2 separate regions of the Homo sapiens genome follow, and region 1 is linked to region 2. Evidence: fine-mapped expression QTL. Tissue or cell type: tibial nerve. Region 2 holds a variant in brackets; the other region holds the start of a gene. All regions are shown on one strand. Distances are between the middles of the regions.

Region 1 (5,000 bases), 620 kb after region 2:
GCTCAAGCGATTCTCCTGCCTCAGCCTCCCAAGTAGCTGGGATTACAGGCGTGTGCCACCAGTCCTGGCTAATTTTTTTATTTTTATTTTTATTTATTTTATTATTTTTTGAGATGGAGTCTCGCTGTGTCGCCTAGGCTGGAGTGCAGTGGCACCATCTCAGCTCACTGCAACCTCTGCCTCCCGGGTTCACGTGATTCTCCTGCCTCAGCCTCTGGAGCAGCTGGGACTACAGGCGCCCACCACCACACCCGGCTAATTTTTGTTTTTTTAGTAGAGACGGGGGTTTCACCATATTGGCTAGGCTGGTCTCGAACTCCTGAGCTTGTGATCCGCCCACCTCAGCCTTCCAAAATGCTGGGATTACAGGCGTGAGTCACCGCGCCCGGCCAAATTTTTTTTTTTTTTTTTTTTGAGACAAGAGTCTCGCTCTGTCACCCAGGCTGGAGTGCAGTGGCGCGATCTCAGCTCACTGCAAGCTCCGCCTCCCGGGTTCACGCCATCCTCCTGCCTAAGCCTCCACGCCCGGCTAATTTTTTGTATTTTTAGTAGAGACGGGGGTTTCACCATGTTAGCCAGGATGGTCTCGACCTCCTGACCTTGTGATCCGCCCGCCTCGGTCTCCCAAAATGCTGGGATTACAGGCGTGAGCCACCGCGCCCGGCCGCCTGGCGTAATTTTTGTATTTTTAATAGAAATGGGGGTTTCACCATGTTGCCCAGACTGGTCTCGAACTCCTGATGTCAAGTGATCCGCCTGCCTCCGCCTCCTAAAGTGCTGGAATTACACCCGTGAGCCATCGCGCCCGAACCCTATTGTAAATTTTAAGTCTCAGGCGTTTGCCAGCGGCACGCCAGAGAGTATAGCCTGCGCGGAGGCCCAGAAACCAAAGAGCGAGCTCATTCCGGGATTGGAGAGAAGTGTGAGCAGAGGGAAGTAGAGGGATCGGGGAGAGGAGGGGCAGGACCCACGCATTCGGCCCTTTGCATTCAGCTTCATTCAACTAGGAACTTTTTCTGCAAATCAAGGAAAGCTTCCCGGAGGAAGTGGTGCCTAAGCTGTGCTCTGATTCACGTTTAGAAGCTGACCAGACAAAGAGAGGTGGGCGTTCCTGGCAGGGGGAGGGACTTGGCAAAAACCAAGTGGCTTGAGAGGGGTTGATGGTTTTAAAAAACTTGGAATGATTATGTCAAGGGCTAGGGATTTAATGTGTTGACGACGGACTCCTATTCCTCACTTGCTTCGGGACCCCAGCTATGCCCTTCCTCTCTCTGGGCCTCTCACCGATTCCGTTTTTCCCCCAGGTAATGAGCACAAGCTCCCTTTTTCCTCCAGACTCCCCCCGGGTTGGGAGGATCCACCGAGTGGACGAGGAGTGATAATTCCTTTGAGCCAATCGTTGGTGCCTGAAGCCCCGCCTTCTTCCCTACCCGTGGGCCAATTGCCGTGTTCTCCTTGAGGCCGGCCGCTTGGCGAGGGTGGGCCAAAGGCTGCGTGACGTCGCTTCCGGATAAACCAATGGCAGCGATTAGGAGGCGGGTCGTTTTGGTGATGGACAGGTGTTTCAAGACGCCCCTTTAGCGCGGGGCTCCCCGGGAAGCTTTGAGGCGGTGCTGGGTGTAAAGGGGAGGGCATTCCTGGTGGATTTTGCCCAATCACCAGTCGCGCTTCTTGCAATAGACGGGCAGTTTTCCCCATCCCGGGTCGACTTGAGGGGGCGGGATTCTGGACGCCAGAGTTGGCAAACCCCTGACCTATGATGGACGTATTCTCTAGCCAATTACTAGACGGTATTCTCAGACGGGCCGCCTCCATTGCCAATGAAATCTTCCAGCGGGGTCGCGGTAGGCGGGCCGTGGACCCTCTGGTATAAGGCGGTCCCGGGGGAGTGAGGAGAAAGGGGGGGTCTTGGCGGCCGGAGGAGGAGTAGGTGCGGGTGAAGATGGCGGCAGCCGAGGCCGCGAACTGCATCATGGAGGTGAGCGCTTGGAGCGCCGCCGTGGGCGGGAGGCGGCTTTGGGTCGGTGTTTCACGCCTCTGTGGTGGGGAAAGGGCTCTAAGTTGGCGATATGGGGTTGGAGGTCCCCCGCCGCACACGGGGGCGCCGCACGTTCCACATCCGGGGATATCGTTTGAGGTGACGGCTCCCTAGCTTCCAAGGGCCTTCGGCATCCGGCCTAGCGGAGGGTCTTATCCCCCCTCCCACGTGGAGGAGGGCTGGGGGCGCTTCCGGCCAGGCCCCCACGTGGCCGCTGCGCGGTGGGTGGGGAGGGGGTGTGCCGAGTCCAGTGGCCCGGCGGGCTCCACGTGCGGGACAAAGGCCCCGCCCCCGGCCGGGGAGGGGCGCCCAGGGGGGCGGGGAGGGGGTCCGACCCTCCTGACGCCCCCAGCCCTCCTCCCCGGGGACCTGGGCACACGCCGTGGGGTGTGATCGACCTGGGGCCCTCCACGATGTGGGGAGTCTCTTGGGAGGAGCAGTGCTTCTCAGCCCTTTACCAACCTCCTTCCGAGCTCCGGGGGCATCTGTTGGGATATCGGACCCGGTTTTGTGCGTTCTGGGTTAGGGACTGGAGGAAAACCAAGAATGGGGTCCCCCGCCGACCCCGTTTCCCCTCCCAGAATTCTCCCCCTCGCCCAGGGCTTTAGGAGTTGGGGGATGGGGCATGCCCCTGTGACCTCCCTCTGGGTGGTGGTGGGGCATCTAGATAGAGATTTTCCCATTAATAGGCGCCGTGCACCCCCTTGTGGCCATTTCTGGGTGTGTGGGAGGGACATCTTTTTCATGGGGCGTGTCCTGAAGCCCACCTCCCCTCGGATTTCTTCCTGGCGGGCGGAGGGAGGAGGGTATGTCCGCTGGGAAGGAGTTGTGGGAAATATGTAGGCTGAGAGCTTTACCCTACTGGAGCCGTTTATCTCCCCCGGGTCTTTGTGAGGGTGCGAGATGACCTCCTTCTTCCTGAAGCCCTGTGCAGGGTCCTGAGCCCTGGGGTCCTGAGAGTGGGTGCCTGAAATGGTTTCGAGTGAGGTTTGGTTCTCGTGCAGCCATGTGGGGGAGGTTTCAGTCTTGCGTTTCAAGCCCTCTGGGGCTGGGGTTGTCTGGCGGTAGTTTTCAGTGGTATTGAGAAATAGGCCCGAGTGGGAAACCCCCTCAGCACCTTTCTTCTTATAGGCATCCCCGCTAGCTTGGGAGAGCTGGAGGGAGGGTGCTTGGAGCCTAGTAGGTCATGGCCTGTGACGTGGCCCTTCTTGGAGACTTGGATAGTGGTCACATCTGGAAGAGATGTAATCTGATGGGGCCTCTGTCCTTCCACCCCTTACCTATGGCATTGGCTGGAGGGGCAGGTCAGCTCTCAGCTGTCAGGATGCAGCTCCCAGGGGTCACTGTAATGACTTCCCACCCTCTTGGCTGTCTCCTGCACCTGGGGCTCTATGGATGGAGGAAATAACTTTCCCAGAGGTGGCCTCAGGCTTGGCCGCACCTGGAAGTCTTCAGGGCCTGGGATGGGTGTCTGAATGGGGGCGATGGCCTGACTCCCCAAGCCACTTTTTTTTTTTTTTTTTTTGAGACGGAGTCTTACTCTGTCACCCAGGCTGGAGTGCAATGGCTTGATCTCGGCTCATTGCAACCTCCGCCTCCCGGGTTCAAGCGATTCTCCTGCTTCAGCCTCCTGAGTAGCTGGGATTACAGGCACCCGCCACCAGGCCCAGCTAATTTTTGTATTTTTAGTAGAGATAGGGTTTCACCATGTTGGTCAGGCTGGTCTCAAACTCCTGACCTCAGGTGACCCACCTGCCTCGGCCTCCCAAAGTGCCGGGATTGCAGGTGTGAGCCACCGTGCCCCCAAGCCACTTTCTGGAGTCCTCTCATTCTTAGAGGGTCCAGGAGCTGCCCATCTTCCCTGGGACCCTACCTTCGTGGGCAGAGGGTCATAAGGGAGGGGGTTGGTTCCAGCTGGTTTTGTTTGGGGCTCCTGAGTCCAAGGCAGGAGCTGGGGTCTGGGGTACTAGCTCTGGGGAAGTACCCGTGTGCCACACCTCTATTCTGGAATCCTCTCAGACATGAGACTGGTTTGCAGAGGTGGCAGATGCCCTGTGGGCATATCCTGCCAGCCCCGCTCCCTTCTGCTATTCATGGCACCCTAGGATAGGGGTGTGTGTGTCAGGAAGTGTCACCTAATCTGGAGGAGATTAGGTGATGAGAGGGAGCGACAGCTGGCGGTGGTGGGTGCCAATTCCCCTGGCCTGGATGGGGGAGGTGTGTGGTCAGCTGCCTGGCCAGAGAGGGGCAGCGTGGGGGTGGGCCACCATCTCTCCAGCCACAGCTGGGATAGGAGACCCCCCTTTCTTCTCCCCTCACTTTTCCCACCCTTTCTTAAACACCCCACCTCATTACTTGCCCCCTTCGCCACCACTCCCCACCAAGAAGGAGAATTGCTGGAAACCCACCCCCCGGCCAGAGCCCAGGTTCCGCCACCCAGCCCTCCCACAGCCACTCCCAGTAGCTAATCCTTTTTCCCTGTTACTCTCTCCTAGAATTTTGTAGCCACCTTGGCTAATGGGATGAGCCTCCAGCCGCCTCTTGAAGAAGTAAATATCCTTTTGTGAGACCCCTCCCCACCCTGACCTCCACATCAATATATCTTGCCACACATCTGGCCCTTTCTTGAGGTCTAACCATACCCCTCTTGCTTCAAACCAGTTTACCCCAGGCCCCCAGACACTTAGTAGCAACCCCTCCAGGTTCACAGCCCCCGCTGGCCTCCCCCAGTATCGCCGCTACTTCCTTAACTCCACCTCCAACCCCCCTTTGCCCTTCCCTGTGTCTGCCCCCATTTTCCTTCCCCTCCCCTCCCCAGCTGTGGGCTGAGCTAGAGACGGGGTCAGAGAGACTGGAGAGATGGTAGGCGTGGCTGAGGTATCGGGGTGCTCCCCTGGATGGTGCTCTGGGGGGGTCCTGGAAGTGGAAAATGGGGTTGTTAGGTTTTGGGGTTCCTGGGGGG
Region 2 (8,080 bases):
TGGAGAGAAGGCGCCGCACATCAGCTAGAAAGACTCAGGAGTCCCTATCACCCCCCACCCCAAACTCTGACCTCTTCCAGTCGGCCCCCAGCCCTTTCCTCTGCAGTCCCTGGCATCCAAATTCCCTGGCGCCTCCTCTCTCAGACCCAGGACTCCAGGACCCTCCTCCTTCAGAGAGGAGTCCAAGCTCCCAATCCCCTTTTCTCAGCCCCCATCTTTCTGGGTCCCCAGGCCCCGCAGGGCTTCAGCCTAGGGTCTGCCCACCTGCACCGTGGGCGGGGGGAAGGGTACGGGTGGGATAATGCCATGGGTAACGTAGCTGCTGGTGAGATGCCAGTTGGGCCAGGATTCAGGCATCTCGGTTGCAGAGATGAAAGACCACGGGGGGCCACAGCGCACAGCCAGGGTGCCACTGGCCATGGTTCCACCCCCTCCCTGTAGCCAAGCAGGAGCTGGTTTGTTGCTGTTGCCCCAGGTGACAGAACCCGCCCACCCCAATCCAGCCAATGAAAGGCCTGCAGGCACATGGATGGATGGAGTGATTAAGAGACCCAGAGACAGAGAGACAGGGACTCCAAGAGGGGCACAGAGAAACACGGAGTGGGGGATGGAGAGTCAGAAAGAGGCGGACAGAAGGGGATGGAGAAGTTCAGGATTTCAGAGACCCAGGGGGTGGGGGAGACAGAGACACAGAAAGAAGGACAGAGACCTGGGGGTGTCAGAGATACAGACAGAGACCCCTGCACTGCCCCCAGCACCTCAGGACATCCATGAGAAACACCCCCCTTTGCTCCAGGGTCCAGAACCTCCTGGCTGCTTCCTCCCTCTGCCAGGCCTGCCCACCTCGGGGTAACGATTTCCAGATGTCCCCGGGGCTCCCCAACCCTTCCCGCACGTGCTGAAGGAGTCAGCGCTGGTGTCAGCTGTCCTGCCTGCCTTTGATTTGGTTGAAAACTTCCACCTGGGTAGGCTGGGTGGGGAAAGAGAAAGGGATCTAGAGAGAAGTGCACCGGACCATAGCGAAAAAGATGGGCTTTGATGAGTGAGGAATAAATACAACAAGAAAGGGGAGAGACAGGGAGGAAGAAAGAGACCACGATGGAAAGGGAGCTATTAGTACTACCCAGAGGCGACAGACACTGGAAGTTAGAGACAGAGATGAAGGTGGCAAAAACGACCAAAGTCACAGATGGAAAACAAGGAGACGTAGAAACTGAGGCAGCCACGCCCCACCCTGCCCAGGGGCCTGGTCTGTATAGATGCGGGGAGAAGTTGCCTATGTCCTTTGCTCAAAGCTGGACCTGAGAGAGAGAGAGAGAGTTGGTGGGGCGATGGGTAACATGTGAAGGGCTATTGTGAAGGCCTGTGGTCTGTCCCTGGCTTCCCTTGTCACTTCTTCACTATAAACAGCTTTTGATCACCGGGCGCAGTGGCTCATGCCCGTAATCCCAGCACTTTGGGAGGCCGAGGCATGCGGATCACTTGAGGTCAGGAGTTTGAGACCAGCCCGGCCAACATGGCGAAACCCTGTCTCTACCAAAAAATACAAAAAGTAGCCGGGCGTGGTGGCGCACACCTGTAATCCCAACTAAGGCAGAAGAATCACTTCAACCCGGGAGGTGAAGGCTGCAGTGAGCTCAGATCACACCACTGCACTCCAGCCTGGGTGACAGAGCGAGACTCCATCTCAAAAAAAAAAAAAAAAAAAAAAAAAAAAAAAAAGCTTTTGGTCAAGGCCTCTGACTGCTCAACCCCCATTATCTCATCCTACCAGCCCATTCTGCAGACAAGGAAAACTGAGGCTACTTTCTGCAGCCATGCCCAGGATCCCACTTACCCCTCCTCCCCCATTCAGGCTTCTGGGGCCTTTCTGTTGGATTTTGCTGGCCCTACTCAACAGCTCTCAATGGACAGTGACCCCCTGATCCTAGCCAGGGGGCCGATGAGTTAGTCAGAAACTCATGCCCCACTCAAGCTGGACAAAATTTTTTTCTTTTTTTTGAAATGGAGTTTCGCTCTTTTTGCCAAGGCTGGAGTGCAATGGTACAGTCTTGGCTTACTGCAACCTCTGCCTCCTGAGTTCAAGCAATTCTCCTACCTCACCCTTCAGAGTAGCTTGGATTACAGGCATCCGCCACCACGACCAGCTAATTTCTTTATATAATTTTAGTAGAGTCGGGTTTTCACCATGTTGGCCAGGCTAGTCTCGAACTCCTGACCTCAGGTGATTCACCCACCTCGGCCTCCCAAAGTGCTGGGATTACAGGAATGAGCCATCGCACCTGGCCATCAAGCTGGAAAATTTTAAGGTCTGTTTCTTTCCCAATGTAGAGTAAAGGTTGGGACAGGGAAGAGGGCTAGAAACCTGACTTCAGCTCCCTGCCGAGGGCTGAACTCTCCAGCATCCTGATCACTTCTCATTCAACCTTGCTTGTACTCCTCTGTGATCGGTAGCTTATTACCTCAAAACAGAATATTCTAAGTCAACCTTTGCCCCCTCTTACCAAGTAAGATTTCCCATTTGAACCCCATCTCCCAGATACTTAAAGGCCTTCTGTGGGCCACGTTCTCAAGGTCCCCTGGCCATCTGCTTGCCTGTTCTAGTTTCTCTCCTCCTCCACCCACATCGTGAAATGTCCCCTCCCACTCCCCAGCAAGGTGGTGTCCTCTGAGACTGAGTAGTCAGCAACTTAACACCAAGGGCCACCAATGATCAAATCCATGAGAGTTGATCTGAGGAGTTATGTATTAGGGATAAGAAACAGTAAACACTCAGTAAATAGTGGCTATTATTATTATATCATCATCATTATTACCCTCAAGTTGCTCCAGGAGAACTCCTATTCAACCTCCAAAACCCCATGTGGTTTCACCCATCCTGCAGAGATTGAGCTCAAAATCAGAGAATTGTGATTTTGTGATTATTTGATGAGTTCCCAAACTGGGGTCCTTAGATCAGCTGGGCCATCCCTGAGGTCTCTCAGCATCCAGCTCTGTTATTTTCCTGGGCATGGGTCTCAGGCCCGGCCAGTCCGGCTGAGGAGTGTGCAGACGCAGGCAGTGTCAATTCGAATCCATCGCCAGCCCACACGGCCCTGGGCATCAGCGGTCAATGCCCGCACATAGGACTGCTTGGCCTTGCACTCAGATACCCAGTGCCTCCTGTCCACTCCCCGGCAGCCCCCTCCACCTGCCCCCGGGCCACCTTCCTCAGCGTTATCAGCCTTGCAGCGGGTTTCAAAGAAGTACTGGCGGAGGGGACTGCCGCCAGCTGCAGGCACCTCGCCCAACACCTCCACCTCGCGCCCACGCAAGTCCACAGCGGTCCGGCGGTCTGTCACCCAGCCACTGACTGCATCGCACACAGCCAGCTCACCCCGACGACTCGCTGGTGCAGTTTCGCTCACCCCACGCCGGCTGCGGTTGGCCGGGGCACCTGCTGACTCCCGAAAGGCCCCAGCCTCCAGCAGGAAGAGCAGAGGGGGCCCAGCAGGGGCACCCCTAGACAGGACTACTCGGGGGGAGAGAAGGTCCCACTCAGGGGCCAGAAAAGGGGGCAATGTTGAGGGTGGGGGTTGGGACTCAATTGGCACACTGGGGAGGAGGAAAAGGAGGAGGATGGGGAGGGAGCATGAGGGGAGAGGGAGCATCTCTCGGAGCACCTGGAGACAGAAAGAGGGAGGCTGGGATTAGAGAAGGGGGTAAAAACTTCAGTGGGGAAAGAAGTTGGGAACCCCAGGGGAGGCTTGCCTGCCAGGATTGTGGGGAAGCCCTTGTTCTAGAAGTTTGGGGGACCCTATATCTAGGGCTTGC[G/A]TAATGCGCAACTTGTAGATTAATAATAAATATTCAACTACTACAGGCCAGGCACTGTGCCCCACACCTCTAATCCCAGCACTCTGGGAGGCTGAGGCAGGTGGATGACTTGAGGTCAGGAGTTCCAGAGCAGCCTGGCCAACATGGTGAAACCTCATCTCTACCAAAAATACCAAAATTAACCGGGCATAGTGCTGCACGCCTGTAATCCCAGCTACTCAGTAGGCTGAGGCAGGAGAATCACTTGAACCCAGGAGGCCGAGGTTGCAGTGAGCAGAGAGTGCACCACTCCCCTGCCACCTGGGCGACAAGAGTGAGACTCTGTCTCAAAAGTAAAAATAAGGCCAGGCATGGTGGCTCACACCTGTAATCCCGGCACTTTGGGAGGCCGAGATGGGCGGCTCACCTGAGGTGAGGAGTTCCAGACCAGCTTGGTCAACATGGTGAAACCCCTTCTCTACTAAAAATACAGAATTACCCGGGTGTGGTGGCGCATGTCTGTAATCCCAGTTACTTGGGAGGCTGAGGCAGGGCAATCACTTGAACCCAGGAGGTGGAGGTTGTGGTGGGCTGAGATTGAACCATTGCACTCCAGCCTGGGCAACAAGAGCGAAACTCCGTCTTAAAAAACAATAATAATAATAAAATAAAAATAAAAATAATTCAACTACTATTACTTAACAGTAACAGATGTTGAAATACAGGCTCAGAGAAGTTAATGATTTGTGCCCGGTCACACAGCCAGCAAATGGCAGAGATGGGACTTCACCTCTGGGCAACTGCACTCTGCCGTCCTTCCTGTGCAACTCTGAGGAACCGACAGTCTTGCATCTTGGAGGATGTTCCAAACAATTTTTTTTTTTTGAGACAGAATCTCACTCTGTTGGCCAGGCTGGAGTACAGTGGCACAATCCTGGCTCACTGCAATGTCTGCCTCCTGGGTTCAAGTGATTCTCCTGCCTCAGCCTTCTGAGTAGGTGGGATTACAAGCACCTGCCACTGTGCCCAGCTAATTTTTGTATTTTTAATAGAGATGGGGTTTCACCATGTTGGCCAGACTGGTCTTGAACTCCCAACCTCAAGCAATAGTCGTGTCCTGGCCTCCCAAAGTGCTGGGATTACAAGCATAAGCCACCATGCCTGGTCCCAAACAAAATTTTTTTTTTTTTTTTTTTGAGATGGAATCTCCCTCTGTCGCCCAGGCTGGAGTGCAGTGGCACGATCTTGGCTCACTGCAAGCTCCGCCTCCCAAGTTCATGGCATTCTCCTGCCTCAGCCTCCTGAGTAGCTGGGACTACAGACTCAAGCCACCACGCCTGGCCACATTCCACAATTTAGAGAAAGGTCACAACCTGGAATCCTAGGGAGACCCCAGTTCACCTCAAAACTGCCACTAAGGAGGTAAAACGCTGCCCCTCTGAGGCAGGCTTCAGTTTCCCTGTGTGTGAAATTGACCTGGCGCTGGGAGAGGCTGGTGGAGGCGCGGATTTTGCAGTTTCCCTACAACATTCTGGAAGCCTGTGGTTCTGGGAAAGGGTGGCGTGGAGAAGACTGGGAAACAGTCAGTAGTTACCAGACCTGTCAGCACCTCCTCCGCCTCGGAGCTCTGGGGCTGGGAGTCCCCAGGCTTCGGGGGGCCCCTGTGGAGGACACAGGTGGCCCCCTCCTTCCTGACATCTCAGGAGAGGGAGGGGGCAACCACCTAGGGGAAGAAAAGAATAGACAGGTTATAGAGGCAGGTGGGGAAGGGGCCAAATCCCTGAACAACCCCTTCCCAGAGTTCCTCTTCAAGTGCAGGGTACCCAAGAGTCAAGGCCCCGCCCCCTTTCCAGAGGCCCCTTTTCTACCCAGGTGATGGCTCCTGGCTGGGATGGGAAGCAGATGGAGGGAGGGGAAGGGAGAATAGGGGAAGGGAGAGGCAGTGGATGAAGGAGGCTGGAAGAGATTACATCCCCCTCGGCCCATTCATCTCCCAGATGGGGCGGAACTGGCCTGGACACCCGGGTCCCTGAGGGCCCACACTCAAGAAGCCCTGGTTCCCCAAGCTGCTTCCTGGAATGTTCCCTCCTCACAGGACAGGCCAGGGCCCGCCCAAGACTTCTGCACATACCTGGAGTGGCTGCCTGCCCTGGCTCCTCGGTACAGGAAAGGGGAAGGGTGGAGAGTGAAAGGAGCCCAGGCTGACCCAACCAGGACCGCCTTCTCCCTCAGACCGAGTAGTGCAGACCCCAGGGCCTCCACCTTCAGACCCAGGAGTTCAGATCCCCAGCGCCCTCCTCCCTCAGACCCAGGAGTAGTCCAGGCCCCCAGCGCCCTCCTCTCTCAGACCCAGAAGTCCAGGCCCCCAGCACCCTTCTCCCTCAGACCCAGGAGGAGTCCAGGCCCAGGCCCCCAGCACCCTTCTCCCTCAGACCCTGGAGTCCAGGTCCCCAGCGCCCTCCTCCTTCAGACCCAGGAGTCCATGCCCCCAGCGCCCTTCTCCCTCAGACCCAGGAATCCAGGCCCCCAGTGCCCTCCTCTCTCAGACCCAGGAGTTCTGGAATTCAGGCCCCTCCTTCTCGGATACTAAGAAATGCAGACTCCGGGTTCCTCATCCTCCAGATTTGGGTTGGGGGTTCCGGACTCCGAGACCCCTCAGGGGAAACCGGCTGCATATCTGGGACACTTCCCTCTTGCCTCAGTTTCCTCCGCCAAGCCCCGCCCCGGTCGGCCCCGCCCCCGTCCCTCCCCACCCGAGGGCAGGGCGACCAGGACGCCGGAATCCCGAGGGAGGAGGAGTGGAGATCTTACCTGGGGCGCCCTCTTCGGCTCCCGCGGCTGCCCTCCGCCCGGCAGCAGCTCCTCCTCCTGCTCGCTGGCTGCAGGGACGCTCGCTGGCCCGCCGGGTGCTAGCTGCTCACGCTCCGCAGGGCCCGGGTCGGGGGCGGGGGCGGGGCGGCGCCGGGCGGCAGAGGAGGGGCCGGGGGATCCTGCCTTGCACTCGCGTGCCGGGACCTTGGAAGCCAGGCCTGGCTCGTTCAACGCGGCCGCCTTGGTCACAGGAGTCCCAGTTTCCAGCTGCCTCCTCCTTTGGACCTAGCAGTCCAGGCCCCCAGCCCCTCCTCCCTTCAGACCCAGGAGTCCAGGCATCCGGCCCCTCCTCCCTCAGACCCAGGACTTGCGACCCCAGCCACCTCTCCCCCCAGCCCCAGGCGCCTGAGTACTAAGCCCACAGTTCCCCCCACCACCTCCCAACCCCGCCCCGTCTCAGACTCAGGAGTCCAGCCCCCAGCCTCCTCCTCCATTAGCCCCAGGAGTCTGGGCCTGAGATTCCTTTGCCGTCTTTTGCCAATTGCGTGTCAATCCCGGGGCAGATTCCCACCCTCTGCTCTCCTCCCCACTTCCCAGGAGCTCCACGCCAGACATTAACCAGCTGGGCTTGGGCAGTGATAAGGCCCCAGGCCCGGGGAGACAGTGGATGTGGGGGCTCCCGCATACTCCTCTCCCCTGGAATTTCCTGGCTGGGGACCGGGGAGAAGGTCTTGTCCTGAGCTCAGATAAGAGACGTGCAAGGTATCATAGGACCAGAGATAGACAGATGTGTCTTAAGAACAATCAGCTACCTTGAGAAATGGTGCGCGGTGACATGAAGGGAGAGATAGGGAGAAGACATGGAAAAGTGGGGAGAGACCAAAAGAAAGAGGGGGACCGAGACTAGAGAGAGTGGGGGAGGGCAGGAGCCCAGAGAGAAGACAGAGGCCCAGAGAGCGTGAGGGCAGACCCCCCCACCCCCCCGAGAAGGGGACAGAGCCCCTGAGAGACCCTGAGAAAGACAGGGATGGGACCGGAGCCGGAGTGTCTCAGGACAGTCATGAGGGCAGCGGGGCTCCTCACCCCACCACACCTCTACCCTGAGACTCCGCTCCCCTCCGCCTGCGCTATTTTCAGAAGGAAAACTGACACCTGCCTCGAGGGTCATCCCACACCCCCTCAGCCTAAATATAGCATGGCAAGGTGGCAGGAGGGTGTCCCCGGTTAGGGTGTTTCCTGCTCCTCACCATCCCAGCCAAGGCAACACACAAGGCCGCTCCAGTTATTTATTGGGGGTGGGGGGAAGGGCCACTTCCCAGGCTTTGGGTGTGCATTCAGGTCACCTCTCCGGCTTCTCCACCCTTCCCCTGTTCCTAAACAGCCAATACATCCTGCCGCATAGCAGGAGGACTCTAGCTTCTAGCTTCTAGCTTCTAGTCCTGGAGGGGATAGTAGGGATGAGGTTTCCAAACAGAGT

Evidence for each region. PIP is the estimated chance that this variant, and not a neighbour inherited with it, causes the effect.
Region 1: it holds the start of PRMT1, and the variant in region 2 is fine-mapped to the expression of PRMT1 in tibial nerve (GTEx, PIP above 0.99).

Annotation. Positions count from the first base shown.
Region 1 is chr19:49,675,339-49,680,338 of GRCh38, forward strand. It overlaps PRMT1 (protein arginine methyltransferase 1), which reads left to right and starts at 1,933. Exons shown (of 11, transcript NM_001536.6): 1 at 1,933-1,978; 2 at 4,534-4,587. The coding sequence starts at 1,943. RefSeq lists enhancers at 1,418-1,567, 1,572-2,303 and a silencer at 2,148-2,427.
Region 2 is chr19:49,058,348-49,066,427 of GRCh38, forward strand. NTF4 (neurotrophin 4) reads right to left here and starts at 6,471. Exons shown (of 2, transcript NM_006179.5): 1 at 5,392-6,471; 2 at 2,781-3,662. The coding sequence starts at 3,650. The coding sequence ends at 3,018. It also overlaps the pseudogene LOC124904739. The variant G/A (reference allele first, on the strand shown) is at 3,814.